4 linked regions of the Homo sapiens genome follow. The protein of the gene in region 4 interacts with the protein of the main gene of each other region in a pairwise test. Each region holds a gene or a part of one and is shown on either strand. Other genes may lie near its edges. The genes, in order: TASOR2, UPRT, PSMA6 and ERH.

The links.
Region 1: the proteins of ERH (region 4) and TASOR2 interact in binary tests that used the Homo sapiens proteins (3 or more experiments, as listed by UniProt).
Region 2: the proteins of ERH (region 4) and UPRT interact in binary tests that used the Homo sapiens proteins (3 or more experiments, as listed by UniProt).
Region 3: the proteins of ERH (region 4) and PSMA6 interact in binary tests that used the Homo sapiens proteins (3 or more experiments, as listed by UniProt).

What each region holds. Positions count from the first base shown.
Region 1 is NC_000010.11:5,680,431-5,688,516, reverse strand, and holds the start of TASOR2 (protein TASOR 2), read right to left. Parts: upstream 3,680-8,086; 5' UTR 3,342-3,679; intron 2,901-3,341; exon of another isoform or gene 1,102-2,900; intron 1-1,101.
Region 2 is NC_000023.11:75,276,615-75,284,452, reverse strand, and holds part of UPRT (uracil phosphoribosyltransferase homolog), read right to left. Parts: intron 1-7,838.
Region 3 is NC_000014.9:35,287,755-35,295,655, reverse strand, and holds the start of PSMA6 (proteasome subunit alpha type-6), read right to left. Parts: upstream 3,275-7,901; 5' UTR 3,180-3,274; coding exon 3,104-3,179; exon of another isoform or gene 3,056-3,103; intron 1-3,055. UniProt on the Homo sapiens protein: Component of the 20S core proteasome complex involved in the proteolytic degradation of most intracellular proteins. This complex plays numerous essential roles within the cell by associating with different regulatory particles.
Region 4 is NC_000014.9:69,381,050-69,388,887, reverse strand, and holds part of ERH (enhancer of rudimentary homolog), read left to right. Parts: intron 1-1,804; coding exon 1,805-1,925; intron 1,926-2,550; exon of another isoform or gene 2,551-2,842; intron 2,843-7,838. UniProt on the Homo sapiens protein: May have a role in the cell cycle.

The sequences.
Region 1 (8,086 bases), on a different chromosome or scaffold from region 4:
TGTTATAGTCCCAGTGCTTTGAGAGGCGAGGCAGGGGGACTGCTAGAGGCCAGCAGTTCGAGACTAGCTTGGGCAACATAGCAATACTGTCTCTACAAAAAAAAAAAAAAAAAAAAAAAAATTAAAAATTAGCTGGGCCTGGTGGTGTGTGCCTGTAGCCCTAGTTACTCAGGAGGCTGAGGCAGGATTGTTTGAACCCAGGAGTTGGAGGCTGTAGTGAGCTATGATCACATCACTGCACTCTAGCCTGGGCGACAGAGCAAGACACTGTCCTAAAAAACAAAACAGAAACAAAAACACAAAACTGTTAGGTTTTGATGAGTATCAAAAAAGAACATAATCATCTGAAAAGATTATTAAAATATTCATCTCTTTTCTAACTACTCAGCTGAATGACGCTGGATTTTCTTCATGCACTTCAACCAAAATAATACATGGCAACACAATGAATACAAAAGCAGATGAGACTCTAGTCATTAAAGGAGACCTTCAGCGTATTTGCAAAAATGTACAAAAATCCCATTCTTGTCACTAATTTTGGGGAGATAAAATATGTTAAGATGTAATGGGTTATTATATTTAAAGGTACCAATAAATAAACATACATTTCAAATTTATCAGTTTTAATATCTAATACGGTAATTATCAATTGATATAATCCAATAAACAAAAGATCTTTGGGATCTTCAGCAGTCTTTTGAGACGGAGTCTCACTCTGTCACCCAGGCTGCCGTAGAGTGACACAACCTTGGCTCACTGCAACCTGTCTCCCAGGTTCAAGTGATTCTCTTGTCTCGGCCTCCCGAGTAGCTGGGACTACCTGCACCTGCCACCACACCTGGCTAATTTTTGTATTTTTAGTAGAGATGGTGTTTCACCATGTTGGCCAGGCTGGTCCCTAACTCCTGACCTCAAGTGATCCACCTGCCTTGGCCTCCCAAAGTGCTGGGATTACAGGCGTGGGCCACCGTACCTGGCCCCCTCAATGGTTCTTAAAAAGTGTAGAGGGGTCCTGGGAATAAAGTTTCTAAATTGCTAAACTATAGGCACGTGCTTTAACATGAGTGAATCTCAGAAACAATGTTTAACAAAAGTAACTCATAGAATACAGAATGACTTTATTTAAATAAAGTTCAAAAACAGGTAAGAGTAAACAATGCTAGTTAAGGATATCTATATAGGTGATAAAACTGTTTAAAAAGGCAAGGGAATAATTAACACAAAATTAATAATGGCCAGGGTAACGGGGGGCAGGGAACGCATTCCTCCTGGGGTAGAAACACACAAAAGGTTTCCAAACTAACTAAAGTTTCTAAAGCTTTTATTAATTTTTGTTATGAAATATACCATTAACATGTACTGACAAAAAGCATATTTATTACACAGATACGCTTTGTCAGTACATATTAATGACATATTTCACAATAAAAAATTTTTAAAGAAAAGGGAGATGTACATATTCTCTTAGAAGGAAAAACTCAAATAAATGTCTCTTCTCAGATTATATATTCAACACCATCACAAACAATATCCCAAGATTTTCTATAGGACTTAAAAAGATAGTTTTAATTTCTTCTGGAAGAAAAAATGCAAAAGAAAAACCCAAAGCTCTTTTTCAAAAGAAAGTACCAAAATATATTATAAAACTATGATAATTAAAATGCTACAGTAATAGTTACATGGGCGAAAGAAAAGAGAGCTCAGACTCAATAAAAACATCAGCAAATGATATGACCTGCCTAAAAAGATTTAACTTTTGTATTCACCAAGGAAGATAAAAATTAAAACAGAATGTTACTTTCAATTACTAGGTGGCTAAGATATTTTAAAAATACCATTATCATCCAGTGCTGGCTAGCATGGAGATAAAAACACATCTTTTGAGCGAGTGAACATAAAAAGGTACAATCATTTCAGGGCAATTTAGCAACATGGTTATCCAGCACTCTCATAAGGAGTCAATTCTACAGAAATACTATCATGACCACCTGAAGCACTGTTTATAACAGCAAGAGATAATCACTGCAGTATTGTCAGTTATAGGGATATCTTGAAAATAACTTGAATGTCTACCAACAGAAAAATGAAATTCACTTGATAAATACATGCCATATTGATCTATTTTTACTGAATAGATAGTATACTGTATTTAACAAACACCATGTCTCAGTCAAGTTCTTAGGCACTTCACCGATTTTAACCCATTTTAACAACTATGTTTGGACCACAGGAGATGCTTATAATCTCCCTTTAAAAAAATTAGTTACATTTGGGCAAATGTTCTGTATACACAAAACTTCAAATATACCGTCTTGGTCTTCCTTAACATAATTGTGGACCTTTTGTCACCCTTTTTCTGGCCTGGCTTAGTTATTTATTGATGTACAGTACAGGACATACCGCATACAGTCACCCATTCCTATAAGGCAGTTTTTCGACAGAAGGGTATTCTTGCACCGTTAGGGGACACTGCTTTGCTATAAACCTCCTAGGCAGGATTACCGCCAGGCTCACCCCTAGTTTTATTCAGGGAACACTGTAGACTCTAGGATCGCGAATGCCATTCCAATAATACCATACACTTGTACGCCACATATTTAAGTTTTGGATACACTTTCATAAACTTTTCTATTCTAATTGTACCTTACAGGGAGAATAAGGAAGAGTAAGCGTGGTTTGTTTAAAGTTACAGATTTCAAATAGACAAGAAGCGACTAAGAGAAACTTGAGAATTCCCAAAGTAATCTTCCTCAAAATTTCAGTCATCAACCCAGTTCTCCCACGAAACGCTGCTTGGCGCCGCCTTCAGACAAACTTCTGTGTTGCTCGCACCAAGTTATCCCAACGCGGCTTGCGCTTGCTGCTGAAATGACCCTCCCTTCGGAGAGACCTGTTTTACCCTAAAAAGAAAAGGTGGCGCATTGCCATGAAGTCTCGAGTAGCAGCAGGCTTCACGCAGAACCCGCAGGAAATGATTTCCCAGCCGGTGCAAACCCGAAGACGGAAACTTCAGCCAAGAACTTATCAGCATATCCCTGAGGACGCAGCTGTCCCCTGACAGGCGACGCAAACGAAACGCCTCAGAAAGGGGCAAGATGACACGGTTAGGATCTCCCTGCCGGCGACACCGAGCGCGGCCACAGGTTGTAGCGCAGGACAGAAGGTTGAGTCATCTAGAAGGCGCCGACCCCTCCCACCCCCTCACCCGGAGCGCGGCAAAAGGCAAGGAGAACGCGTCGACCCTCGCAGCCAAGCCCCGGCAGCTGCCCGAGCGCTCGGCCTCGGGGACCCGCCGTCCTCCTCGCAGGGTTCCCGGGCGCCCAGGCCGAGGAGGGACTTACCCGTCCTTGGCGTGGCCGCCGCCCCCGAGGACCTGAGATCCCGGCTCGGCCTCCTTCCCATGCTTCTCCCGGCCGTGCTCTGCGTCCTCCCGGGCCCTCGCGACACCGGCGCACGTGGGAAGCACCAGTCGCCGGCTCCGCGCTCCCGCGGGGACCCCCCTCAGGGGCACGCCGTCCGCCCCAGCCCCGGGGTCCTCGCCGCGGGCGCTGACAGGGACGCCGCGGCCGCCCGCGCTCTGTCTCCCGTCAGGGTCACGGGCAAGAGGCAACCCCGGGACGCCCGGCAGCCTGCGAGAACATGCCGACTTTCTCTCTGACCGGCGCTAGCAACCGGAAGCAAAACCTCGCGGCCAAAGGAAAAGAAAAGGGGAGGGGGGGGCAAAAAAAGAAAGTGAAAACTGAAGTGAGGCGTCTCCCTCAGAGATGGGAACCAATCGCCGGGAAGAAACCAAGGCGCAGGCGCGGACCGAGGTCAGCGTCCACGCGGCGCTCGCGTCTCCCCTCTGCGCAGGCGTAAGGCCACAGCTCGCTCCTGATTAGGCGGCCGATCCCAACGAGCGCGTGGTGTCTCGCGTTGCCGACCCTTGACAGGAGGCGGAAGATGCCCTTGGGAAGAGGCGGGAGACGCTCTCTCGGCTGACCTACAGTGCTGTGGCTGTGGCCCACGTGGTCGCCTTCGGGCGCCTTCTCCCTTCTCAGCGTTTCATTCCCCAGGTGCTGCTGCAAGAACAGTTTATTTGTCTGGCCCGAATGCGACATTTTGGAAATTTTGCCCTTGTTTTAATCCATATAGTAGGTGTGGCTGTTACCCCCTAGGAAAGCATCTCTAGAAATTTATAACACATGCACAGAGAGCTAAGGTGACCATCAATAAATTCAGGTTTACCCTTGCCCATGATAAATAGTCATGCAAACATCATTTAACTGTAGGGACACCTTATGAGAGAGATGCCTCATTAGGCAATTTGGTCCTTGAGTGAACATCACAGAAACCTAGAAGCATAACCTACTACATACTTACACCATAAGCCATAGCCCATTACTCCTGGCTACAAACCCATGCTATATGTTATTGTACTGAATACTGTGGACAATTATAACACAATGGTAAGTATTTGTATAAGCATATCTAGACATAGAAAAGGTACAATAAAAATACAGTATGAAAAATAATGGTACACCTGTGTAAGGCATTCTCACGAATGGACCTTGCAGTACTGGGAGTTGCTCTGGGTGAGTCTGTGAGTGAGCAATGAGAATGTGAAGGTCTGGGACATTACTGTACACTCTTGTAGACTTTATAAACACTGTACACCTAAGCTACACTGAATTTATTTTTTTAAATTTTTTCATAATTAACCTTAGCTTACTGTAACTTTTTAACTTTTTAAAACTTTTAAAAAACTTTTTAAGACTCTTTTGTAATAACACTTAGCTTAAAACAAACACATTGTACACAAATATTTTCTTTATATCCTTAATCTGTAAGTTTTTTTCTATTTAAAAATTTTTTTAATTTACTTTTTAAACTTTTTTGTTAAAAACTAAGACACAAACACACATTAACCTGGGCCTACACAGGGTCAGGATCATCAACATCATTGTCTTCACCTCCATTTTGTCCCACTGGGGGGCTGGGATTACGGTGGAGCCACTGCGCCTGGCCATGTGTGCTGTACTTTTATATGACTGGCAGTGCAGTAGATTCATTTACACCAGCATCACCACAAACATATGAGTAATGTGTTGCTGTACGAAATTAAGATGGCTACGACATCACTAGGCAATAGAACTCTTCAGCTCTATTATAATCATATAAGATCACTGTTGGATATGTGGTCTGTTGTTAACTGAAACATTAAGTGACATATGACTGTACCAATGAGAGAGATTAAGTGCTAATGAACATGTATCATGAGTCAAGCACTGTGCTGGTAATACCAAGAGATTCAGTCATTGTGTTTACTGTTTACTGTAACCAGGTGCTGTAATAGACACTGGTTTTACAATCATGAACAAGCTAGATAAGGACCCTGCCTATAATGGAATTTATTCCAGAGGTGAGTGACAAACACAGGTAAATCACCACGACAAGAAAATAGAATCTCAGATAACAATACATGCTGTGAAAACTCACTGGAAATGCTAGTGGATGGGACTGGGGGCTGGAGGCCAAGGGCAGAAGTAGTGGAGCTACAAGATCTTACTGAAATGGGCACATCTGAGGTCAAACCCTAAAGATCAAAACTGATAGAACCAAAGCTTGGAATACGTGGAGGAAGAGCTTTCCAGGCAGAAGGGAAAGCAAGTGCAAAGGACTTGAGAAGTGAAATGAAACCTATTCAAGAACAGAAGAAGGCTGACTGTGGAAGTAGAGAGTGAAGTACAACAACATTTTAATAGTGCACAAAACCGGAATGTACAACTCCATGATTTATCACAAGGCAAATATTCATGAAACCAACACCCCCATCAAGAAATAGAACATTGCCAGTACCCCATCCCTCTTCCCTAGCCTAAGCACTATTCTGACTTCCATGGTACTCTCTTCTTTGCTTTTAAAAGTAAGTTTGCCAACTAAATATGCACCCTGAAACTTTATCATTTAGTTTGCTTGTGGTTTGAACTGTATATAAAGTGAATAATTTTGTGCCTGCTTGTGAGACTCACTGTGTTTTTGGGTGTACTTGTTCTTTCGTTTTCATTGCTGTATATGTAGGCGTGAATGTAACACATTTGCTTTACCCATTGTATTATTGATGGACATTTGGGCTGTGTCCAGTTCTTGGCTATTATAAATAATACTTTTGTGATCATTCTCATTTACATCTCTTGGTGTACATGGGCACTCATTTCTGTTGGATGAAAACCTAGGATTGGGATTTTGGAATGCTAGACATGATAATTTAGATTTTTGTTTCTGCAAATATTTATGCCCTTATTCCCCACGGTTGGCCAAGTTTCCTTCTCTACTTCATTGACGTTGGGCTTGGTCTAAGAGAGGTCTTTTGGCTGATAGAATATCAGCAGACATGACACAGCAGGATTCTTCAGTGTGCTCGTGCTGTTTGAGTTGGCTCCTGTGCTCAGGTGATTCATATGTGGAGAAAATATCTCGCGTAGCTGTTGTCTCTTCAGCCTGAGTCTCCAGAACAAACCTATGTGGAACAGATGTGACACCAACCCACAGTCCAACACACTTTGGATTAACAGAGCCTTAGACATCCTGAAGATCAAGGATTCTGAAAGTTAATGCTGTTATCAAAAGCTAACCGAGTTTGGGGTGATTTATTATAGGGCATTATTGTGGCAATAACAAGGGCATATGTTCAACTTTAGCAGATCATTTCAAACTTTTTGCAAGCTGGTTTTACTAAGTTATACAGTTCCACAAAGATAATTCTAGTTCGTCTACATCCCTGCCAATACTTTTGAATTGTAGCCACTCTGAAGGGTGTGTCATGGTTTGAATTTGCATAGTATACAATGTTGTTCTTTTTCAAGTATGTTTGGCTATTCTAAGTCTTTTTTTTTTTTTTTTGAGACGGAACGTCACTCTTGTTGCCCAGCCTAGAGTGCAGTGGTGCAATCTTGGCTCACTACAACCTCCGCCCCCCACCCCCAGCCCCTGTTCAAGCAATTCTCCTGCCTCAACCTCCCTAGTAACTGGGATAACAGGTGTCTGCCACCACGCCTGGCTAATTTTTTATATTTTTAGTAGAGATGGGGTTTCGCCATTTTGGCCAGGCTGGTCTCAAACTCCTGACCTCAGGTGATCCACCCGCCTCGGCCTCCCAAACTGCTGCGATTACAGGCATGAGTCACTGCACCCGGCCCATCTATTCTAAGTCTTTTAAGTTTCTGTATACATTTTAGAACCAGCTTATTTTCTACCTCAAAAACAACCTGTTGGGATTTTGGTTGGGATTGTGCTGAATGTACATATCAATCTGGGAGAGAATTAACATCTTACTAATTGTCAAATTCTACTTATTCAGGTCTTTAAAAATTTCCTTCAGCAATATTTATAGTTTTCAGTGTACAGCTCTTGCACATATTTTGTCATATTTATCTCTTTGTTTTTGATGTTATTCTTAATAGTACTAAAAATTTTTGCAATAATTTGTTGCTAGTATATAGAAATAAAATTGATTTTTCCATATTAACTTTATATCTTGTAGCTTGCCGAAATCACTTATTATATCCAGTAGCTATTTGTTTGCACATGTGTGCATTCTTTATGCTTTTTTAGGACATTTTCTGCAAATAAAAATAGTTTTACTTCATTGTTTCTAATTCGTATTTCTTTTCTCCTTATTGCATCAAGGCCATTCCATTAATGTAATGTTCAATATAAGGAGTGAAATAAAATATCCCTGACTCAAAAAAAAAAATCCTTGTCTTGTCTCTCATCTTAGTGCAAAAGCATTTAGTTTGTAACCATTAAGCATAATGTTAGCTTTGGTGTTTTGTACCCTTTTTTAGATTTATGAATTTCCCTTCTGTTCCTACTTTTTGAAAGTTTTTCTCATAAACGGGTGTTGAATTTGGTCAAATACTTTTCTGCATCTATTGAGGTGATTATATAGTTTTTCTTTTCTGATCTACTAATATGGTGAATTACATCAATTGATTTTTCAAATGTTAAATCAACAGTGAATTCCTGAGATAAACCCAATTTATTCTGGATTCATTATCCTTTTCATATATTATACTGGATATGAATTGCTGATATTTTGTTAAGG
Region 2 (7,838 bases), on a different chromosome or scaffold from region 4:
TTGGCCCTAGATCTTCCCTCTGACAGAGCATACCCAAATGAGAATGAAACAGAAAACAAACCCTGGTAATATTACATAACAAGGCTCTTTAACAGCCCCCAAAAATCACACTAGTTCACCAGCAATGGATCCAAACCAAGAAGAAATCCCTGATTTACCTGAAGAGGAATTCAGGAGGTTAGTTATTAAGCTAATCAGGGAGGCACCAGAGAAAGGCAAAGCCCAATGCAAGGAAATCCAAAAACGATACAAGAACTGAATGGAGAAATATTCAAGGAAACAGATAGCTCAAAGAAAAAACAATCAAAAATTTAGGAAACTTTGGACATACTTTTAGATATGGGAAATGTTCTGGACAGTCTCAGCAACCGAATTGAACAAGTAGAAGACAGAAATTGACAGCTTGAAGACAAGGTATTTGAATTAACCCAATCCAACAAAGACAAAGAAAAAAGAATAAGAAAATATGAACAAAGCCTCCAAGAATTCTAGGATTATGTTAAACAACTAAACCTAGGAATAATCCGTGTTCCTGAGGAAGAAGAGAATTCTAAAAGCTTGGAAAACACATTTGGGGGAATAATTGAGGAAAATTTCCCCAGCCTTGATAGAGACATAGACATCCAAATATGAGAAGCACAAAGAATGCCTGGAAAATTCATCACAAAAAGGTCATAGCCTAGGCACATTTTCGTCGGGCTATCCAAAGTTAAGATGAAGGAAAGAATCTTAAGAGCTGTGAGACAAAAACACCAGATAACCTATGAAAACCTATCAGATTAACAGCAGATTTGTCAGCAGAAACCCTACAAGCTATGAGCTATCTATCTTCAGCCTCCTCAAACAAACAAACAAACAAACAAAAAATCAGCCAAGAATTTTGTGTGCAGCAAAACTAAGCATCATACATGAAGGAAAAATATAGCCTTTTTCAGACAAAGGCTAAGAGAATTCACCATTATCAAGCCACCACTACAAAAACCACTAAAAGGAGCTCTAATTCTTGAAACAAATCCTGGAAACACATCAAAACAGAAACTCTTTAAAGCATAAATCATGCAGGACCTATATAACAAAAATACAGGTAAAAGGCCAAAACTAAAAACAAAAAAAAACAGTACATAGACAACAAAGAGCACAATCAATGCAACAGAACCTCACATTTCAATACTAACATTGAATGTAAATGGCCTAAATGCTCCACTTAAAAGATACAAAACCGCAGAATGGATAAGAACTCACCAACCAATTATCTGCTGCCTTCAGGAGACTCACCTAACACATGAGGACTCACACAAACGTAAGGTAAAGAAGTGGAAAGAGACACTTCATGCAAATGGACACCAAAACCGAGCTGGAGTAGCTGTTGTTATATCAGAAGAAACAAACTTGAAAGCAACAGCAGTTAACAAAGACAAAGAGGGACATTATATAATGGTGAAAAGCCTTGTCCAATGGAAAACTATCACAATCTTAAACATATATGCACCTAACATAGGACCTCCCAAATTTATAAAACAATTACTAACAGACCTAAGAAATGAGTTAGACAACAACACAATAACAGTGGGGGACTTCAGTACTCCACTGACAGCACTAGACAGGTCATCAAGACAGAAGGTCAACAAAGAAACAATGGATTTAAACTATACCTCGGAACAAATTGACTTAACAGATACATACAGAACATTTCGTCCAACAACTGCAGAATACATATTCTATTCAACAGTGCATGGAACTTTCTCCAAGACATACCATATGATAGGCCATAAAACAAGCCTGAATAAATTTAAGAAAACTGAAATTATATCAAGCACTCTCTCAGACCGCAGTGGAATAAAACTGGAAATCAACTCCAAAAGTAACCTTCAAAATCATGCAAATACATGAAATTAAATAACCTGTTCCTGAATGATCACTGGGTCAAAAACAAAATCAAGATGGAAATTTAAAAATTCTTCAAACTGAATGACACATACCTCCCAAATAATGACACAACCTCCCAAAACCTCTGGCATACAGCAAAGGCAGTGCTAAGAGGGAAGTTCACAGCCCTAAACACCTACATCAAAAAGACTGAAAGAACACAAACTGACATTCTAAGGTCACACCTCAAGGAACTAGAGAAACAAGAACAAACCAAACCCAAATCCAGCAGAAGAAAGGAAATAACCAAGATCAGAGCAGAACTAAGTGAAATTGAAGCAAAAAAAAAAATATAAGATAAATGAAACAAAAAGCTGGTTCTTTGAAAAGATAAATTAAATTAATAGACTATTAGCAAGATTAACCAAGAAGAGAGAAAATCCAAATGACCTCACTAAGAAATGAAACAGGAGATATTACAACTGACACCAGAGAAATACAAAAGATCATTCAAGGCTACTATGAACACCCTTACACACATAAACTAGAAAACCCAGAAGAGATGGATAAATTCCTGAAAAAAATACAACCCTCCTTGCTTAAATCAGGAAAAATTTGATACCCTGAACAGACCAATAACAACCAGCAAGACTGAAATGGTAATTTAAAAATTACCAACAAAAAAAAAGTCCAGGATCAGATAGATTCACAGAAGACTTCTATGAGACATTCAAAGAAGAATTGAAAACATTCCTTTTGACACTATTCCACAAGACAGAGAAAGAGGGAATGCTCCCTAATTCATTCTATGAAGCCAGCATCACCCTGATAGCAAAACCAGGGAAGGATATGACCAAAAAAGAAAACTACAGACTGATATCCTTGATGAACATAGATGCTAAAATCCTTAACAAAATACTAGCTAACCAATTCCAACAGCACATCAAAAAGATAATCCACCATGATCAAGTGGGTTTCATATCAGGGATGCAGGGATGGTTTAATGTATGCAAGTCAATAAATGTGACACACCACATAAACAGAATTAAAAACAAACATCACAGGATCATCTCAATAGATGCAGAAAAAGCATTCAACAAAATGCAGCATACCTCCATGATTAAAACTCTCAGCAAAATCAGCATAGAAAGGACACAACTTAATGTAATAAAAGCCATCTATGACAAACCCACAGACAACATAATACTAAATGGGGAAAAGTTCAAAGCATTCACTCTAAGAACTGGAACAAGACAAGGATGCCACCCTCACCATTCCTCTTCAACATAGTACTGGAGGTCCTAGCCAGAGCAATCAGACAAGAGAAAGAAATAAGGGGCATCCAAATTGATAAAGTGGAAGTCAGACTGTCACTGTTTGCTGAGGATATGATCTTTTACCTTGAAAACCCTAAAGGCTCCTCCAGAAAGCTCCTAGAACTGATAAAAGAATTCAGCAGTTTCTGGATACAAGATTAATGTACACAAATCAGTAGCTCTTCTATACACAAACAGTACCCAAGCTGAGAATCAAATCAAGAACTCAACCCTCTACAATAGCTGCCAAAAAAAATAAAATCCTTAGGAATTTACCTAAGGAGTTGAAAGACCTCTACAAGTAAAACTTCAAAACACTGCTGAAAGAAATAATAGATGACACAAATGAATGGAAACACATCCCATGCTCATGGATGGGTAGAGTCAATATTGTGAAAATGATCATACTGCCAAAAGCAATCTACAAATTCAATGCAATTCCCATCAAAATACCACCATCATTCTTCACAGAATTAGAAAAAACAATTCTAAAATTCATATGGAACCACAAAAGACCCCACACAGCCAAAGCAAGACTAAGCAGAAAGAACAAACCTGGAAGTGTCACACTACCTGATTTCAAACTATACTATAAGGCCACAGTCATCAAAACAGCATGGCACTGGTACAAAAATAGGCACAAAGACCAATGGAACAGAACAGAGAACTCAGAAATAAACCCAAATACTTATAGCCAACTGATCTTCGACAAAGCAAACAAAAATATGAAGTGGGGAAAGGACACCCTTTTCAACTAATGTTGCTGGGATAATTGGCTAACCACATGTAGGAGAATGAAACTGGATCCTCATCTCTCACCTTATACAAAAATCAACTCAAGATGGATTAAGGGCTGAAATCTAAGACCTGAAACTATAAAAATTCTAGAAGATAACTTTGGCTTACATACATTGGCTTAGCCAAAGATTTCATGACCAGGAACACAAAAGCAAATGCAATAAAAACAAAGATAAATAGCTGGGACTTAATTAAACTAAAGAGCTTTTGCACAGCAAAAGAAACAGTCAGCAGAGTAAACAGACAACCCATATAGTGGGAGAAAATCTTCACAATCTATACATCTGACAAAGGACTAATATCCAGAATCTACGAGGAACTCAAACAAATCAGCAAGAAAAAAAAAAACAAACAATCCCATCAAAAAGTGGGCTAAGGACATGAATAGACAATTCTCAAAAGAAGATATACAAATGGCCAACAAATATATATATATGATGGAATACATATCAAATATATATATATGATGGAATACTAGTCAGCCATTAAAAAAATGAATTAACAGCATTTGCAGTGACCTGGATGAGATTAGAGATTACTATTCTAAGTGATGTAACTCATGAATGGAAAACTAAACATCATATGTTCTCACTAGTATGTGGCAGCTAAGCTATGAGGATGCAAAGATATAAGAATAATATAATGGACTTTAGCAACTTGGGAGGAAAGGGTGGGAGGGGGTCAAGGGATAAAAGACTACAAATATGATGCAGTGTATACTGCTTGGGTGATGGGTGCACCAAAATCTCATAAATCACCACTAAAGAACTTACTCATGTAATCAAATACCACCTGTACCCCAATAACTTATGGAAAAAAATAAATAAGTGAAACCTGAAAGCTTTAAAAAAATAAAACAAATGTTGAAATTATTGCAAAAAAATGGGACAGAAAAACAAGGGAAACTATCATTTTATCTGATTACAATTGCTACATTAATTATCCTTTGTGTCAGGGACTGTGCCAGGTCAGACCCCCTTTCTGCCTCCTTGGAGTCCAGTCTAGTTAGGTATACCAGGATATGCCCAGTAAATGTTATAACAGAGGTCCGTATAGCTTAGTGGTGACTTCCTCCTTCCTGCTCTAAAAGTCAGAGGACTCACACGGGAAACACACAAAAACCGAAAATATGTCCATGTTTTAAACAATTTGCACGTCACAGTTTTTTTCTGCGGTGGGCATTTTGGTTTTGTGCAAGCTGGAAGGAAATGTTGGGAGATTCCTCCAGTGTTGATGTAATGCTAGGTCAGGCTCTCTAGCCTAGTTCTGTTTAGTGTGTGGAATCCCTGGATCACCATATCTATAGCCCGAATCAGCAGGCTAGCAAATCAGCACACAAGGGAGACTGGCCATTCTCCCAGGGGCAATGGCCCAGTCTAAACACAGCACAATTACCTGTGGTCAGGTTTTACTCAAGACTATACAAACAACTGCTAAGGATGGGAGTCAGGAACTTGTATTTTAAAAAAAGAGAGAGAGACTCCACAGGCAATTCTGATGCACACAGCTTTGGTTAAGGACAATACATTACTTAGTCACATAACTCAAATCACATTAGATTGCACTCACATTAGGGTTACACAGGATGTTCATTCACCCTAAGGATAATTTTCTCCCCTCCAGGTGACTAAAGAGAGTCACAAGGCTGAATGTGCTCCTTTTTTTGTCCTATGTCACATACTGACATACTCTAACATTGCTAAACTTTTAAACAAGCAGCTTGCTGAGGCCATGCCAAAGCCCCACCTAGGACAAATACACAGGAAGCATTCAACAGCTCACACAACAGCTTTAATGTTTCAGGAAACAAAAAATAAAAAACAAAAAACTGGACAGGGAGGATGATCTTTTAAATACACTGCATTGCCTTTAAATATGAGGTCATGAACTATATTCACAGGAAAAGCACATTACTCAGATTTTGCTGAGTTTAGTATATAAAGGAGGCAGAAGAGAAGGATGTGTGGTTTAATCCATTGCAACAACAACAAAACGACATAAATGAAGAAATTTTTTCTTATCCCAAGTTCACCAGCAACCCACATACGTATGGCTGAGCAAATAATCTACTCAGTGTTTACTGCACTTTCAAAGAGAGAAATTTATTTCCTTGAAATTCAATAATACAACCAACATATTATGTTTCAAATATTGCACATTTCAAAATCTAAAAAGACATTTTAAATCAATACAGACAATGTTCTCAATCTTGCCTGTTTCACATATATACAACAACATGCAGTCCTGCTGGCTCAATCCCGATTTCCCCATACCAAAGTCAATTCACAAAGCAATCCCTTCACTATATAGATGCTAAGGACCAGAAACAATAAAAGAAAAAATATGTACTCCAGTGGCTTCTATTATCGGACAGTTCCACAGTGCACATTTATGCTGTCACATCAAAATAGAGAAGAGAATAAGCCCCAAAGAGAACAGGGTATGATAACTGATGGCACCTTCCATAACTAGACCTATGTAAATATAGCTCCTCTTACCATAGGCACCTTAAACCAGCCTCCTAGAGGGGCTAAAACAGGTCTTGTGAGAGAGGATGACAATTTTTTAAAGATAAAGGGAATATAAAGCCTCTAATTTGGTTAACAAAAACAAAACTAAAAACAATGTCCCCAGCCTAAATAAGCAGCAATACATTACTAAAAATTGTGGTGGGTCTTTCCATACTATATCAAAACAAGATAAAAATTATCTACAATATCCCAGTATTCATTTTCAAGATAAAAAAGTGAATTCCACATAGAGTTAAATTCATTTTACTGTCTTCTGACAAATCAAGAAGACAGCACTTATGAATGCAATTAGAAGCATGCACAAATCCAAACATGAGGCTTGAAATTCCTTAAATGTGAACAGCTCTTCACAGTTCATAATGAATATTCATGAACAGTATCTTGTTTTAGCCTCCCAGGGGCTCCATGTGATATTTACCAACATCTTCATTTTACAAATGATAAAGGTGAAGCACAGAGATGCTAAACATATTGCCTAAATCACTTCTCTGGATCCTGCTGTCTCCTTCCAAACTTAGAGGAAAAAAAAAAAAGGATTCCACTTACACCCAGGTTTACTACATAACCCAGGTTTTTCTGACTAATGACATATAATCAGGTATTATTTTGTCATATGTGAATGCTAAATGCCATTCCCTCTCCAAGCGCTATAGCAAGGGCACTTCACCTTTACATTATCATGACACTTTGTGAAATCTAAAAAACTAAGGAATCCTCACCCTCTAAAAAAAAAGGCACATATGTGAATGTTCATAGCAGCATTATTCATAATAGCCAAAGAGTGGTAAACCACCCAAATGTTCACCAACTGATGGATAAACAAATTGTGGTATATTCATATAATGGAGTATCATTTAATCATAAAAAGGAAAGATCCCACACGGATGAACCTTGAAAACATGCTAAATGAAATGAGTCACAAAATGACCACATATTGTATGATAATGAAATGTCCAGAATAGACATTTTTTATATGTAATGTGCAGAATGGGCAAACCATTAGAAATAGAAAGTAGATTAATGATTGTCTAGGGCTTTGGGTGGGTTGGGTGAAAATGGGGAGTGACTGTTTAATGGGCATGAGGTTTCTTGCTGGGGTGATGACAAATGTTCTAAAACTGTGGTGATGAATGCACAGCTGTGAACATACTTAAAACCACTGAATTATACACTTTAAATTCTTGAACTGTATGGTCTGTGAATTATATCTCAATAAAGATGTTATTTAAAAACAACTATTAAAAATCTTCATATGAGTAAAATTTCCCAGTTAATTTATGAGGGTTTGTTAAAGCCCTGAACCCATCTACTGGTACGAGGGAGTCGA
Region 3 (7,901 bases), about 34 Mb from region 4:
ACATGGTGAAACCCCATCTCTATTAAAACTGCAAAATTAGCCAGGAGTGGTGGCACATGTCTGTAATCCCAGCTACTTGGGAGGCTGAGGCAGGAGAATCGCTTGAACCTGGGAGGTGGAGGTTTCAGTGAGCTGAGATCACGGCCATTGCACTCCAGCCTGGGCAACAAGAGCGCAACTCTGTCTCAAAGGGAAAAAAAAAAAAAAGAAAAAGTCTTTCTCTCCACTCCCTGGGAGCAAACACTGCCAATAATATGTTATTAATAATTATAAAGTATGTTTATAATTATGATTGGCATTACAACTTTTTTTTTTTTTTAGATGGAGTCTAGCTCTGTCACCCAGTCTGGAGGTGCAATGGCACGGTCTTGGCTCACTGCAACCTCTGCCTCCTAGGTTCAAGCGATTCTTGTGCCTCAGCTTCCTGAGGAGGTAGGACTACAGGCACGCCAGCACAAGCAGCTAGTTTTTTGTATTTTTAGTAGAGACAGAGTTTCACCATGTTGGTCAGGCTGGTCTTCAACTCCTGACCTCAGGTAATCTGCCCACCTCGCCCTCCCAAAGTGCTGGGATTACAGGTGTGAGGCACTGCACCTGGCCAAGCATTATAACTTTAAATGTCTACCTCTATTTTTTGATATATCAACTTTAGACGACATTTATCTTTTGAGTCCCAAGTATGGAAGATAAAGAGCATAGTTACCTTCCATTAATCTCCCCTCATCATCATCCCATTTTTAAAATATTATTTTCCTACTGTCAATGTTAACAACTTGCATCCTATAATCCTTCCATGCTTTGTCTTTGGAGGATTCTAAAGTTTACAAACAGACAGTATTTAGAATATTATGATTATGTATATATTTTACTGGAGAACTAAGCATGGAAGGACCCATAAAAAGGGAAATATTCCATACAGAGCTACTAATCTAATAGACCAAAAAAAAAAGGGGGGGCCAAAGAATCAAACAAGCATCTAATAACATTCACTGAGCATTTACTATGTGGCAGGCACACGTTAAGCACTCTACATACATTGCCTTATTTAATTCTCAAAACCACCATTTAAGGAAGAATTATTATGAGCCCAACTTTGGAAAGAGAAACTAAGGCTAAGGTTACATACCTGGCAAGTGCCCAGATCAGGTAGTATGGAGCAGGGCAGAGATTTGAATCCATGTATGACTCCAGGGCCTGAACTCTTCACTATACTGCTTGCTCATACTACTCTTTCACTTTCATTTTCCTAACAATGTCTAATTAATGCCCTGAATAGCAGAGGGAGTGTGTTATTCACAGAGATTAAAATCATTCTGTCTAGGCTGGTGCTAGGCCCGGTGCTCACGCCTGTAATCCCAGCACTTTGGGAGGCCGAGGTGGGTGGATCACCTGAGGTTGGGAGTTCGAGATCAACATGGAGAAACCTCGTCTCTACTAAAAATACAAAATTAGCCAGGCGTGGTGGCGCATGCCTGTAATCCCAGTACTTGGGAGGCTGAGGCAGAATTGCTTGAACCCGGGAGGCGGAGATTGCGGGGAGCCGAGATCGCGCCATTGCACTCCAGCCTAGGCAACAAGAGTGAAGCTCTGTCTCAAAAAAATAAAAATAAATAAAAAATCATTCTGTCTAGATAATGAACTTGTTTTCAGATAGATGTTCTCTTCCAAATCTTTTAAAACCATCACAATGACACTGTGTTCAGCCTTTCCACTCACCAAATCTGGGAAGCATTAACGATTATGCTTTATGGCTGGACTTCACAATACAGTATATAGAAACAAAGTAAAGGTCTCAGAGTGACTTTTCCTGTTCACATATTAAAAATCACGAATGGAACGCTGAAAGCAGTAGTCTAATATACGAAAATTATTTAAAACTCAGGAATTTAATACAATAAATGAAAATTCTTTGAGGATACAGTTATCTCTTTGTTCTATCTTTAATCATGTTTTTCAATTGGGGATAAATTAAAAGGGCTACTGAATTATCCAACAAGATGTTTCTTGCTACATTATATACACTATGCAGTAATACACTGAGCAGTTTCATTCCAAGTTATCTTTAACTCTATTTCTAAAATTTACAGGTGAAGAGAACCTCATTTACAGACCAACTCTCTCCTTATGATTCCAAGCACAGATGATTATATTACTGTGCAAGACACGGAGCCACTAAACTCATTCAAAAATAAAACCATCACGGACCAGATGTAAATCAAGCCCTCCTGACACTAAATTCTCTATGGTAAGAGATCAAGGGTCTGGCTTATAATCATAACCTAAACCTTGACACCGTTTCAGCGCAATACATTACTATTCCGAGTAACTGATAGTTTCTTTCCACTACAGGTGTTCTTCAGTAAACTAGTACACAGTACCTCATCTACAACTCAGAATCGGCATTTAAATTACAGGAGCATTCAAACAGATGTGGGTAAAAAGGGGATGCCAATCTCAAGAGCAGCTCTAGAATTGAGTCACTCATTCTATCAGATTCCCAAAGATGTCTTGAACTCTGTAGATATTTGTAAATTGGCACTTTTAATTTTTTTTATCCGTTTGTTTAACGTATCTGTCACTCTAAGCTGTGAGCTTCAGTATAGAAGAGGGTGTAACATTCACATTTGTATCTCCTAGGACTAGCAGTGTCTGGTATATAGCAGGCTTCGAGTGCCTGTGTGGAATTAACCACAGAAGTCCATGCTGCAAACAAAGGAAAACGGAGAGGAGGCATTTTAGTTGAGACGTTAAGGAATCAATTACCCTTTAGAAACAGACCTTGTGCCTGGCCAGGACAGAATACAATAACTGAAGGGGCCTCACGAAGCCGGAGTCAGGCATTACAGCCCTATCTTCCTTAACTCTCCATTGGGTCTACGCAGTGTGGCCGCTCGCCCTGCAGAGACAGGCCTTCAGGCCCCCGATCCCTGCGTCCAGACGGGGGTGCAAACACCACAGAGCTCAATCCAGCTTCAGCCGTTCTCCCTTCCCAGCTCCAGCCCAGCTTCGGCCCCAGACTAAACCCGGGCCGCGTCTGCTCGCTCCAGGCACGTACCATGACAGGGCAATTCAGGTGGCCCACAGGCGAACCTGGTTCACTCACCTACTTGGTAGAGCCGACCCTCGGGTGAAAAAATGGTAATGTGGCGGTCAAAACCGGCGCTGGAACCACGGGACATGTTGGTAGAAGCACTACTTTAAACACAATCCCTGGGCCCCGTAGCTCCCGCACCAGGCACACAAGCACCTCCCGGAAGTTGCAGCGACTGCTTCCGGGGTACCAGCCGCGTTTCTTCCGCTCTTGCATGCCGAACTCACGGCTCTGGAGCCAGTTCGAGCACTGAGCTCTGAGGCCCCGCCCCCTAAGGGGGTGGTGGAGTGAGGGCGGGAGGCCTTTGAAGGTATGCGCCTGCGCCAAGCAGGCCTCTTGAGTGGATAGACGTGAAACTTGGGTCGTGGCGCTTTCAGGCTTTCATCTGGAGAATGAATTGACTATAGCAAGGACGAAAAGGCTTCCTGGGGGCCCAGAATAGCGATTTGCCTATCAGTGTGACCTAAATAGAACGTGTAATTAACAAGTCTCTTACATGCATCCTGTGTCTGGTCAGACTGCTGGCTTGCCTTCTTCCTAACCTCTTTTATCCTCCACTTTCATTCCTATTACGGGGGAAACAGGTTGCAGCTGCAGCTGCAGCCGTTAAATTTAGGCACTGAAGGAAGCGGGTTCAAGCAGCCGCTGGAAAGAACATTATTTTCTGACAGCCAGGCAAGATCTTCTTTTGGCCAGCAGCCCCGACAATTTTTAGTCTTTTTTTTTTTTTTTTTTTTTTTTGAGACAGAGTTTCGCCCTTGTTGCCCAGGCTGGAGTGCAATGGCGCGATCTCGGCTGACTGCAACCTCCCCCTCCTGAGTTCAAGCGATTCTCCTGCCTCATCCTCCCGAGTAGCTGGGATTATAGGCGTGTGCCACCAGGACCGGCTAATTTTGTATTTTTAGTAGAGGCGGGGTTTCGCCATGTTGGTCAGGCAGCTCTCGAACTCCTGAGCCCAAGTGATCCACCTTCCTCGGCCTCCCAGAGTGCTGGGATTACAGGCTTGAGCCACAGTGCCCAGGCAATTTTTAGTCTTGAAAGCGGAGGCCGGGCGCGGTGGCTCACGCCTGTAATCCCAGCACTTTGGGAGACCAAGGCGGGCGGATCACGAGGTCAGGAGATTGAGACCATCCTGGCTAACACGGTGAAACCCCGTCTCTACTAAAAAATACAAAAAAAATTAGCCAGGCGTGGTGGCGGGCGCCTGTAGTCCCATATACTTGGGAGGCTGAGGCAGGAGAACGGCGTGAACCGGAGAGGCGGAGCTTGCAGTGAGCCGAGATCATGCCACTGCACTCCAGCCTGGGCGACAGAGCGAGACTCCGTCTCAAAAAAAAAAAAAAAGAAAGAAAGCCTAACTCCAGCCTGGCCAACATAGGAAGGCCCCGTCTCTACAAAAAATAAAATTAGCTGTGCGTGGTGGCGCGCGCCAGTAGTCCCAGCTACTCGGGGGGCTAAGGTGGGAGGATGGCTTGAGCCCAGGAGATCCAGGTTGCAGTGAGCTATGATCACGCCACTGCACTCCAGCCTGGGCGACAGAGGAAGATCTATCTAAATAAAAAAAAAAAAATGTGGAACTGAGGTTGAAATACGAGTAATGGGGAATGAGGTTAAGCACCCTTGATTAATAATGAACTAGAGCTGAGGGGATGGGGCTTAGAGCAGCTAGTGTTGCATGGATTAATGAGAGTAATTCCAAGCTGGCGAGGTAGCTCCGGGAGAAGAGCAGGTGGCTTTTCAAATCGCAAATTTGTGCCTATTTTGACTTTCCCCAAGGCACACTCCCATTTAATGAATACAAAATGCAAAACATAATGTTAGGATAGTTGTTTTTCTCCCCAGATAAAGATGGTTTGTGTACAAGGAAGGCAAGATACACTAATGTTTGTGGCACTGTAATGCCTGCTGTAATACTGAAGTAGGGATTCTTACTCCTTTAATGTATTTCCTAAACTAACTTTCTATTTTAAAGAAAAAATGTTCTAAGACCTTCATAAGGGAATTCCAATTTCTCAAGTGTTTTTAAAAATTAATTTCTATTTTATTAATCTAAAAAATCCCAAACTGAAACATGGTTAAGAAAACGGTAAATGCATACAGCATCTCTGGCACAAAGGGTACTTTCCAGCACTGGCTAGTTCCCAAGTGGACTGATAAAAGTTTTCCCTTGCTTCTGGTTCAGGTCCCTACTCTCAGGACCAACTCCTCTTGACCTTTTGAAGACTTTTGTCTTCTCAGACTCTGAAAGAGCCTGGTATACTGTAATTCCTACTGTTTGCCTGCATAGTCAGAGTTCTCGGTAAGGCTGCTAGGAGGATGAACTTAGTCTCACAGCCTCAACAGCTGGCTCTATACTGATGTCTCCTGAATTTAGGTCTCTAGCTGGACCCTTCTCTGGAACTGGATCTTCTCTAATTGCCAATGGGATATTTTTCACATTGAGACATATGGCACCTCAAAACCCCACGTTTGAAAGAGAACTCCTTATCTCATCTATTCCCTCTCAAGCGAATTCCTGCCCCTTGTACCACATTTTCCAAGTCTTCAGAGCCAAAACTTTGTAGCAGTCTTAATTTCTTAATACTTCTCCCCCTCTGCCTTCATTTGTTCCTGCTCTGCTATTCTGCCTTTTTTTTTTTTTTTTTTTTTGAAATGCGGTATTGCTCTGTCACCCAGACTGGAGTGCAGTGGCATGATCACTGCAGCCTTGAACTCCTGCGCTCAAGTGATCCTCTGGCCTCAGCCTCCCAAGGAGCTGGGACTGCAGCTGCACACCAACAGTCCTGGCTAGTTTAAAAAAAATTTTTTTTAGAGACTAGGTTTCACTGTATTGCCCAGGCCAGCCTCAAACTCCTGGCCTCAAGGGATCCTTTGGCCTTAGCCTCCTGAGTATCTTTTTTCTTTCTGTTATATAATTCATAAATTTAGGCTGGGCGTGGTGCAACACCTGTAATCCCAGCACTTTGGGAGGCTGAGGTGGGTGGATCATTTGAGGTCAGGAGTTAAAGACCACCCTGGCGAACATGGTGAAACCTCATCTCTATTAAAATACAACAACAACAAAAAAAGCCATGCAGTAATGGTGTGCACCTGTAATCCCAGCTACTCGGGAGAGGTTGAGGCAGGAGAATCGCTTGAGCCTGGGAGGTGGGGGTTGCAGTGAGCTGAGATCATGCCACTGCACTCCAGTCTGGGCAACAGAGTGAGACCTTGTCTCAAAAAAAAAAAAATCATAAATTTGTTCACTGTTTATTGTCCCTCATGCCCACCCACAATTTAACCTCTGTGATGGCAAGGATTTTTGTTTTGTTCACTGATACAGCTCAGACAACTTGAACAATAACCAGCATATATTAAGTGCTCAATAAATATTAGTTGAATGAATGAATCCCTAATGGTGTGGGAGTTAGTTCATCCTTTTTTATTTAAACCTGAATTTAAATTCATTTGTGACAGTTACTAGTTGGTATCAAACTCCTAGGCTCAAGCCAGGAGTGTCCAATCTTTTGGCTTCCCTGGCCACATTGGAAGAAGAATTGTCTTGAGCCACACATAAACTACACTAACACTAATGATAAGTGATGGGCTAAAAAAAAAATTGCAAAAAAATCTCATAATGTTTTAAGAATGTTTACAAATTTGTGTTGGGCCACACTGAAAGCCATCCTGGGCCACATGCAGCCTGCAGGTCATGGGTTGGACAAGCTTGGCTTAAGCAGTCCTCCTGCCTTGCCCTCCCAAAGTGCTGAGATTACAGGTGTGAGCCAGCATGCCTGGCCTGTGATGGGATATTTCAAATCACACATATTACGCACCCTGCAGTCTATGAGAATTATTTCACACATTCAAACAAATCTTCATCCCCTCTTGTGGTATGGTATTTAAGCTGGGCATAGGATTTTGGATGGTGTATATATTTTAATACTCTAAAGGATACTTCCTGGAAGGAATCAACCTCATTTTCAACACAAACATAAATTGAAAGCTAGGATTAAAAATCAGGCTCCTTGAGGGTGGTGGCCACATCTGTTTTTGTTGTTGTTGTTGTTGTTTTTGGCTTATTTTTTGAGATGGAGCCTCGCTCTGTCGCCTAGGCTGGAGTGCAGTGGCACGATCTCGGCTCATTGCAACTTCCGTCTCCTGGGTTCAAGTGATTCTTGTGCCTCAGCCTCCCAAGGAGCTGGAATTACAGGTGTGCACTACCACGCCTGGCTAATTTTTGCATTTTTAGTAGAGACAGGGTTTTGCCATGTTGGCCAGTTTGGTCTCAAACTCCTGGCCTCAAGTGATCCGCCTACCTCGGCCTCCCAAAATGCTGGGATTACAGGCGTGAGCCACCATGCCCAACTAGCCACATCTGTTTTGTTCACCAGTGTATCCTCAATACCAAACAGTGCCTAGCCTGAGGTAAGCACTCCAATCATTTGTTGAATATGCATTCTCACTGTTTAGGTTTTCTATTATGTTAATTGTTTTTCTTTATTCAAAAAGATTTGTCAGTAAATGAGAGATCCAAATTTCAAAACCCTAAAAGGTCAGAGATTTTATATTAGAATTTGAGATTTTTCCACATAGCTAAATGAATTCCTCTGGGAAATCTTTCAGAAAGACAAAACGTTTGCCAATTCCATTCAAAGGGAAATCCCCTGGAAGCCGACTTCGTGAATATGTGCCAACGGGCTCCGGGCAGCAGCTAAACTACTCACTCAGGTGGACTTTCCCCTGGGTCAGGGAGCTTTCAGAAATGTCTGGGTACCAATACTGCAGCTCTAACACAAGCCTGGGTGGCAGACTTGCTGTGTCTGTGTGG
Region 4 (7,838 bases):
AGTTGTTTAATAGTTCTGTGGTTGAATAGTGTTTTTATTAGGAAATTTATAAAGTTAATTTGGAGCTAATAAAAGGCTTATGTATACAGTATAGGACATGTTTTTTCTAGATAACTAGCATTTATGTCACTTAGCCATTCATCATAGTAGTCTTAAAATAGTTGACAGCGGGAATAGACTGAAAAGGTGTATTCTCCTTTTGTGGGAATAAGAAAGGAGAGTATCAGGCCGGGCACGATGGCTCAAGCCTGTAATCCCAGCCCTTTGGGAGGCTGAGGCACGCTGATCACCTGAGGTCAGGAGTTCAAGATCAGCCTGGCCAACATGGTAAAACCCCGTCTCTACTAAAAATACAAAAAGTTAGCTGGGTGTGGTGGCGGGTGCCTGTAATCCCAGCTACTTGGGGGGCTGAGGCAGGAGAATCGCTTGAACCCAGGAGGCGGAGGTTGCAGTGAGCCAAGATCTCATCATTGCATTCCAGCCTGGGCAACAAGAGCAAAACTCCATCTCAAAGAAAAAAAAAAGGAGAGTATTATTGAATAAAAACTAAATAGATAATATACTCTATAGCTAATTATAATTAGTAATGTGGGCTTGCTATTAATGATTTTGCTCATTATCTTTTTTATTATATTTAAGTACTTATATCCTTGTTCATGTGCTAATGCTTTATGTGTATTATTTCAAATAAACCTCACAATTCTATGAAGAGGCACTCTTAACTCTGTTTGACAGGTGTGGTTCAGGGAATGGCGTCGTTTGTCCTCGGTTTGACAGGGGCAGAGTTGGAACTAAAGTCTGTCTGAATCCATAGTCTAGGATTTTTTGTTTGTTTGTTTGTTTGAGACAGAGTCTTGCTCTGTCACCCGGGCTGGAGTGCAGTGGCCGATCTCGGCTCACTGCAATCTCCACCTCCCAGGTTCATGCCATTCTCCTGCTTCAGCCTCCCGAGTAGCTGGGGCTACAGGTGCCTGCCACCATGCCTGGCTAATTTTTTGTATTTTTTTAGTAGAGACAGGGTTTCACTGTGTTGGCCAGGATGGTCTCTATCTCCTGACCTCGTGATCCGCCCGCCTTGGCCTCCCAAAGTGCTGGGATTACAGGCGTGAGCCACTGTGCCCGGCCTAGTCTAGGATCTTAAATATACATTAGGATAATCTCTTTCCTTGTTGCCAATTTTTTTTTTTTTTTTGCTCTGTGGCTTTAGGAAGAATTACTGAAAAACCTGTTAAGACCCACAGTGTTATTTGTTTGAGCCATCAGATGGCAAGTCTTTAAAGCCCCTTAGCTCCAGTGGTTTGAAGTAATCATTTTATTATTAAGACACAAAATAGTTACATCAACATTGTGGTGAATTTCTCAGCTGCCCAGACTGGAGTGCAGTGATGCAATCACGGCTCACTGCAGCCAAGTGATTCTCCCACCTCAGCTTCCCAGGTAGCTGGGACCACAAGCACACGCCATCACGCCTGGCTAATTTTTTAATTTTTGTAGAGATGAGGTCTCCCTGTGTTGCCCAGGCAGGCTGGTCTTAAACTGTGGGGCTCAAGTGATGCTCCTGCCTCAGCCTCCCAAAGAGCTGGGATTACAGGCGTAAGCCACTACACCTGACCTGGTGAATTTATAAAATAAAAAAGTATTTGCTAGTGGCAATAATCAAAAGCCATCAATCTATCATCTTTTCCCCAGCCCAACTTTATTAAAGTAAATATGATATCAACATATAGCACAGCTCATAAGCACTGCTCATATCTAGAAGTGTATGCGATTGTAAGATTTTGCTTTTTTTCCTATCCTTTCTTAGGTGTTTGTAAAATGTATGAAGAACATCTGAAAAGAATGAATCCCAACAGTCCCTCTATCACATATGACATCAGTCAGTTGTTTGATTTCATCGATGATCTGGCAGACCTCAGCTGCCTGGTGTAAGTATTAGCCAACATGTCTTTTATCTTGTATTTTCTATTGCTTTTCTGTCTGTTTGAGGTGATTTATGGTATTGGGAGCTAATTATGTGCCTGATACTGATCTTTGCATTTGCATAGTGTATAGTAATTAATATTTCTCTTACAGAAATAAGAGATTGGCAACATAAAGCCAAAGGCACAGAAAAAAATAACTTTGCTAATTGATATAGTTAGTATCCAGAAAGGATCCTAATTCAGAAGTTCCATGTGCCTCTTCTTTGTTCCTTATACCTAATTTTTTTTTTCCTTTACAGTCTTTGTCTTAAAGCCATTGGTTTTGGATTAAAACTAAGATTATCTTTTTTTCATGACATTTCAAAAACTTAAATATGCGTATAGCTGAAATTTAATTTCAATCCTACGCTGTGTAAGTACGTATATTTTGGTATGTTAGAGTGAGATTTTTTAACATATTTGTTATAGTTTGTATTGATAATCTGCTTCTGACAATTACTAACAAGGAGCATAAAGTGTTACTGTAGACTTACCTAATCTTTTTTACATTAGCGAACAGAAATTGAGTGTAAATACAGCTCATTTAACCGAGGAAAATGGAAGCACCTTATGATACAATACTCAATCATCAGATACTTGAATATTTATTACATGTCAGGTGCTGTGCTAGAAGTTGAAAGAGCAGTGATGAGAAATATACAAGTCTTACTCATAGGCACTTCCTGGATCACCACTGGAGCCAATCATGGAATGTGGCTGCACCATGCTGTCTCCCCAAAAGTTCCAAAACACGCATTTCCTTGGGATGTTTGAGTTTTGTTTTCTGTACCTCTTCATTGTGTTCCGGTTGTAGCCATTTCACTTTGATCACTCAGAACATTCAAATGAATGTTGCATGGTACTTTAAGCCATTCAGACATCTATAGGAAAAACATACCAGACAGAGGGGATGAGGGACAGCTAGTGTAGAAGTCCTGAAGTAGGAGTGCCTAGCATGTTTGAAGTCATTAAGGAAGCCTTTGAGGCTGCAGAGGAATGAGTGAAGGAGAGTGTCTTAGGAGATTGGAGGAGCAGGGAGCAATGATATCCTGGAAGCCAAATGCAGAAGTGTGTCATATCATTGATAGGACAGATATGTGAGGACTGAGAATTTAATTGACCCCTGGATTTGACACTGTGGAAGTCTTTGGTGACTTCCAGAACGGTTGTGGTAGAGTGCCAGGAGTAAAATGCTTACAGATTTCAGTGTATGGAAGGGAATGAAAAGAGAGGATTTATAGGTGGCCATTACAGGCTTGCTTTTTTTTTTTTTTTCCTTTTTTTTATTTAAAGAATTTTGCTTGAAAGAACAGAAAAATGGGGTTGTAGCTGGAGAAAGAAATTGCTTTTTTTTAAGTGGGAAAAGTAATGGTAAGTTTGCAGGCTGATGGGATGATGTACCAGAGAAGGAGAAACTGATAGCTCAAATTGGCTCTTGGACAGTTCAATCATAAAAAAGGGAGGACAGGCAAATTTGGGAGCTGGGGGGAATTATCTTCTGTATGCTTCAGTTATCTCAGAAAGATAAGGAGCAAGGACATCATTTGAAACAGGTGTTACAGGTTTGTGGAAAAGTAAGAAATAAGCTAGGAAGGTGAAAGAATTAGGGAACTGCAATTAATTCAGGGATGCATTAAGTGTCCTCCAAAGTACCTATCTGATAGTGATTTAAAGTGAAATCAGTCATTGTGATCATGGGATTTTTTTCCTAGTCTCTCTCACCTGGATGGTTACAGGTGAGGAGTAGGTAGAGAGTAAAGATTTTGCTAAAGGTTGAGGGCATATATGAGGACAACAGCAACGACTGAATGACCATGAGCTTTAATTGGGGGTGTAGGAGGAGGTGCTGGAAACAGAGGTAGATCAGTTCATTGTAGGTCCCACTGGATCAAGGATTGCTCACATTAGAGTGTTAGGAAGTGGTGATCAGAGAATGACATGCTTGAAATTAGGAAATTGAAGTAGTTGGAAATGACAAGGTCTAGGGATCTGGCCAAGAGAGGGTAGGAGATGAGATCATTAGAGGAAAAGACTTCATGGAATTGGGAGGCCTAAGTGTTGACAGAATCATCCACTGGATATGAAATTACCAATAATGTGTATATTAATTGATAGAATTTAAGAAGAAGTTGCTTTGTGTTTGTTCACTGCTGCATCTCTGGTACATAATTAGTGCTGAGTAAATATTGGTTATATAAATGCACGTCACTTGTGTTGTTATTTGAGGAATAGCTTTCTAAAATTATTGATAATTTTCTATTTCCCTTATTTATATTACAGAGCTATATTCTGCATTGATTAAAAATTAATGGTTGTCTTTATGGTTTTATAAAAGAACCTTACTGAAACATTCAGGATGTAATCCTGACGCTTTTGGGATGTCATACTTACTCCCAGTAAGTGGGAAGTAAACTTGAAGCAAAGGATCATGTTTTACTTGTCTTGGGAGGCTGTGGTTAAGAGCTAGCTGGAGTGGCAGAATTAGACATAGCTGGGTTTGAATCCTGGGTCTACCATTTGCTAGCTCCCTTTGACAAGGCAGCTTTGTATTGCTAAACTTTAGTTTGCTAATTTGTAAAATTCAGACAAATCTAGTTCATAAGACTCCTTGTGAGGATCAAGTGCTTGCTGAGCACAGCATTATTAGATATGCAGCAACTCCCTTTTCAACTAGATTGAAGAAGTCAGGATAGAGTTTTATTTTTAATTACAAGCATGTTCTTAAATTTGCCAGGAGTAGAATGATATGAATTTTAATGTCTACGTGTGAGATAAATTATAAATTTCAAGGGAGATTTAAAAGGTGTTGAGGTTTTTTCAACAATATGAAAATTGAGCAGAGTAAAACAGTTACAAGTGACATGTTAATGATATACAAGTATGTCATTAATGACATAACATAACTTTTCTAACTTTGTACTAGACTTTATAAAAAAAAAATTTTAGAGACAGGGTCTTGCTATATTACCCAGGCTGGTCTCAAACTCCTGGGCTCAAGTGATCCTCCTTCCTCAGCCTCCCCAAGGAGTGATATTACAGGCATGAGCAACTGTGCCCGGCTGCATTAGACTTTAAAATGTAAACTAGAAACCATATCTAGCATACTAAACTGATTTTTAATACAATATTTGCTATATTAAAGCAACATAGGGGGAAAGCTTTAATTATTACCTAGATAATTCTTCCCACCTACAGTATTTCCAGAAATATAGAAGAGAGGTTAATGATAATTTATGGTTTTTTAGTAGTTTCAGAGTGTTAAAAACCGTAAATTATCATAGCTTGAAAACCTGTAACTATTTGTTTGTTTCTAATGTTGAAAATTTTTTGGCCTCTGAAAAACTTTCAGAATCAAATTTAGGATTTAAAACTATTTTCCCCAGGTGACTTTGGTTATGTCCTTTTTGTTCTTTGAATATTCAGGAGAAATAAGGTATTGTTTCCAAAGAGGTAACCCACTGCCACAGCACATCCTGTGATTTGGGCCGTTACTCCTCAGACCAGAGACTGGGTCCGTTTTTGGTTTGTAGATGGTTGTGTGCTCATAGTTTCTATTAAATTTACATGGCAGTGACCTAGGACTTTTTTAAATTAATTCTTTTTAAACAGCGTAGGTGGAAATGGAATAAATAAGATTCTACTTTGTAACATGACTAAACCCAGAGCAAACTGACCATGCATTAATAATAAAATGTAGGCATGAAAATTTGTATTTCGTATACTTAAAGTCAGAGTCAGATTTTTCCAGTTTTCTGATCTGTATGTTTTTTAAATAAGCTTTTTGTAAGATGAAAATAATGCCCTTTTGATTATGCAGTATTTTCTTGTTTGCTTAGAGACATAAAGAACATTTAAACTGTCAGTTATTATAATGACAAGAGGTATTCCTGATCAGTAAGAGAAGTTATCACTGAAGACATTTCTGATTTCACTGCCCAGACCCACAGCTTCTGTTCTTATATAAACCTACATTCATTGACCATAACAATAGGTTAAAAGATTCATCTGTGCCAATGACTAGGCATTTTATTAAAGTATTTAACATTTAATTGTCTCATTTTCAAGTGCCAGTTAACAGCCATCGACACACAGCTTTCCATAAAGAAGGCATTATTGCTTTTTTTTTTTTTTTCTTTTGGAGATAGAGTCTTGCACTGTCGCCAGGGTTCAAGCGATTCTCCTGCCTCAGCCTCCCGAGTAGCTGGGACTACAGGTGCGCGCCACCACGCCCAGCTAATTTTTGTATTTTTTTTTTTTGGTGGAGACGGGGTTTCACAATGTTGGTCAGGATGGTCTTGATCTCTTGACATTGTGGCCCGCCTGCCTCAGCCTCCCAAAGTGCTGGGATTACAGGCATGAGCCACTGGCACCTGGCCTACTATTTGATGAGTTGGAAAATTGCATGCAAGTTGATGGATTCCTTAATGTTCACAAACCAGAGTGATTTTTGTTGGGGGGAATGGTATAAACAAAGCCTGTCCCACCCAGATATGATAATTGTGAGAAATTTTGTTCCTTTTTAAGTTATTTTCCAGTGTTAATATAAATGTTATAGTCTCTTCTGCTACATTTTGCAGTAGACTAGCTTAGAGCTTATTTAATTAGGAAGCATGGACAAAGAGTTTTCAGAAAAAATTAAATTTTAGAATTTTTAAATTTGGTTAAGCATTTTTAAAAATGGGAATCTTGTACATTTTTAATAAACCAGATTGTGACCTTACTGTTCAGAGGAAGAATATGATGTTAATTGTATAAAGCATTCCTACTTTGGAATTTATTTCCCTTGCCAAAAATTGTAGTTTAGGTTTCTAACTTAGTGATTAACAGTGAGGACTCTGGAGTCAGGAGTATTTAAAATCTATCTCCAGTCCAGCATTACCTAGCTAATAACTTGCTTCACTTTTTAAAGCCTTGGTTTCTCATTTATGAAAAAGGAGGCCAGGTGCGGTGGCTCACGCCTGTAATCCCAGCACTTTGGGCGGCCGAGGCGGCTGGATCACTTGAGGGTCAGGAGTTCAAGACCAACCTGGCCAACATAGTGAAACCTGGTCTCTACTAAAAATACAAAACATTAGCTGGACGTGGTGGCACACACCTATAGTCTTACCTACTCAGGAGGCTGAGGCAGGAGAATCATGTGAACCCAGGTGGCAGAGGTTGCAGTGAGCCAAGATGGCACCACTGCACTCCAGACTGAGTTACAGAGTGAGATTCTGTCTCAAAAAAAAGCAGGGGTCGGTGGTGGGGGTGGTGGGAAGTGAGGATAATTGTACCTACTCACAGGGTTGTAAAAATGAGTTAATTCAGATAAGAATTTAAAGCGACACCCAGTACTCTGTGACATCTTACTAGATACTACTCACAGTCCCATTGGAGTTTTACTGCTAATGCTAGTCTGTGTACTCCTTTTCGTTCTGATTAGAGATATTTTGGAGCTTACTGTATCTTCTGATAATTCTTCTCCATAGGCCTCTAGCATTATTTATTTTAAAAAGCAAATCCTAAAATATAGGTTTAAGATTTCCTTAATACTTTACAGGGGGAAGGAAATTAGCAAGAAATCTTTGTTGCCAGTACATGTTTTTTAAAGGTTTTTTAGTTAATTCAGAATAAACATTGCAAATCTAAAGTTTGTTCTAGTATTGTTGTTTTTGTTTTTTTGAGATGGAGTCTCACTCACAGGAGTGCAGTGGCACGATCTCGGCTCACTGCATCCTCCACCGGTTGAAGCAATTCCCTTGCCTCAGCCTCCTGAGTAGGCAGGACTACAGGCGTGCACCACCATGCCCAGCTAATTTTTGTATTTTAGTAGAGACAAGGTTTCACCATGTTGGCCAGGCTAGTCTTGAACTCCTGACCTCAAGTGATCACCCGCCT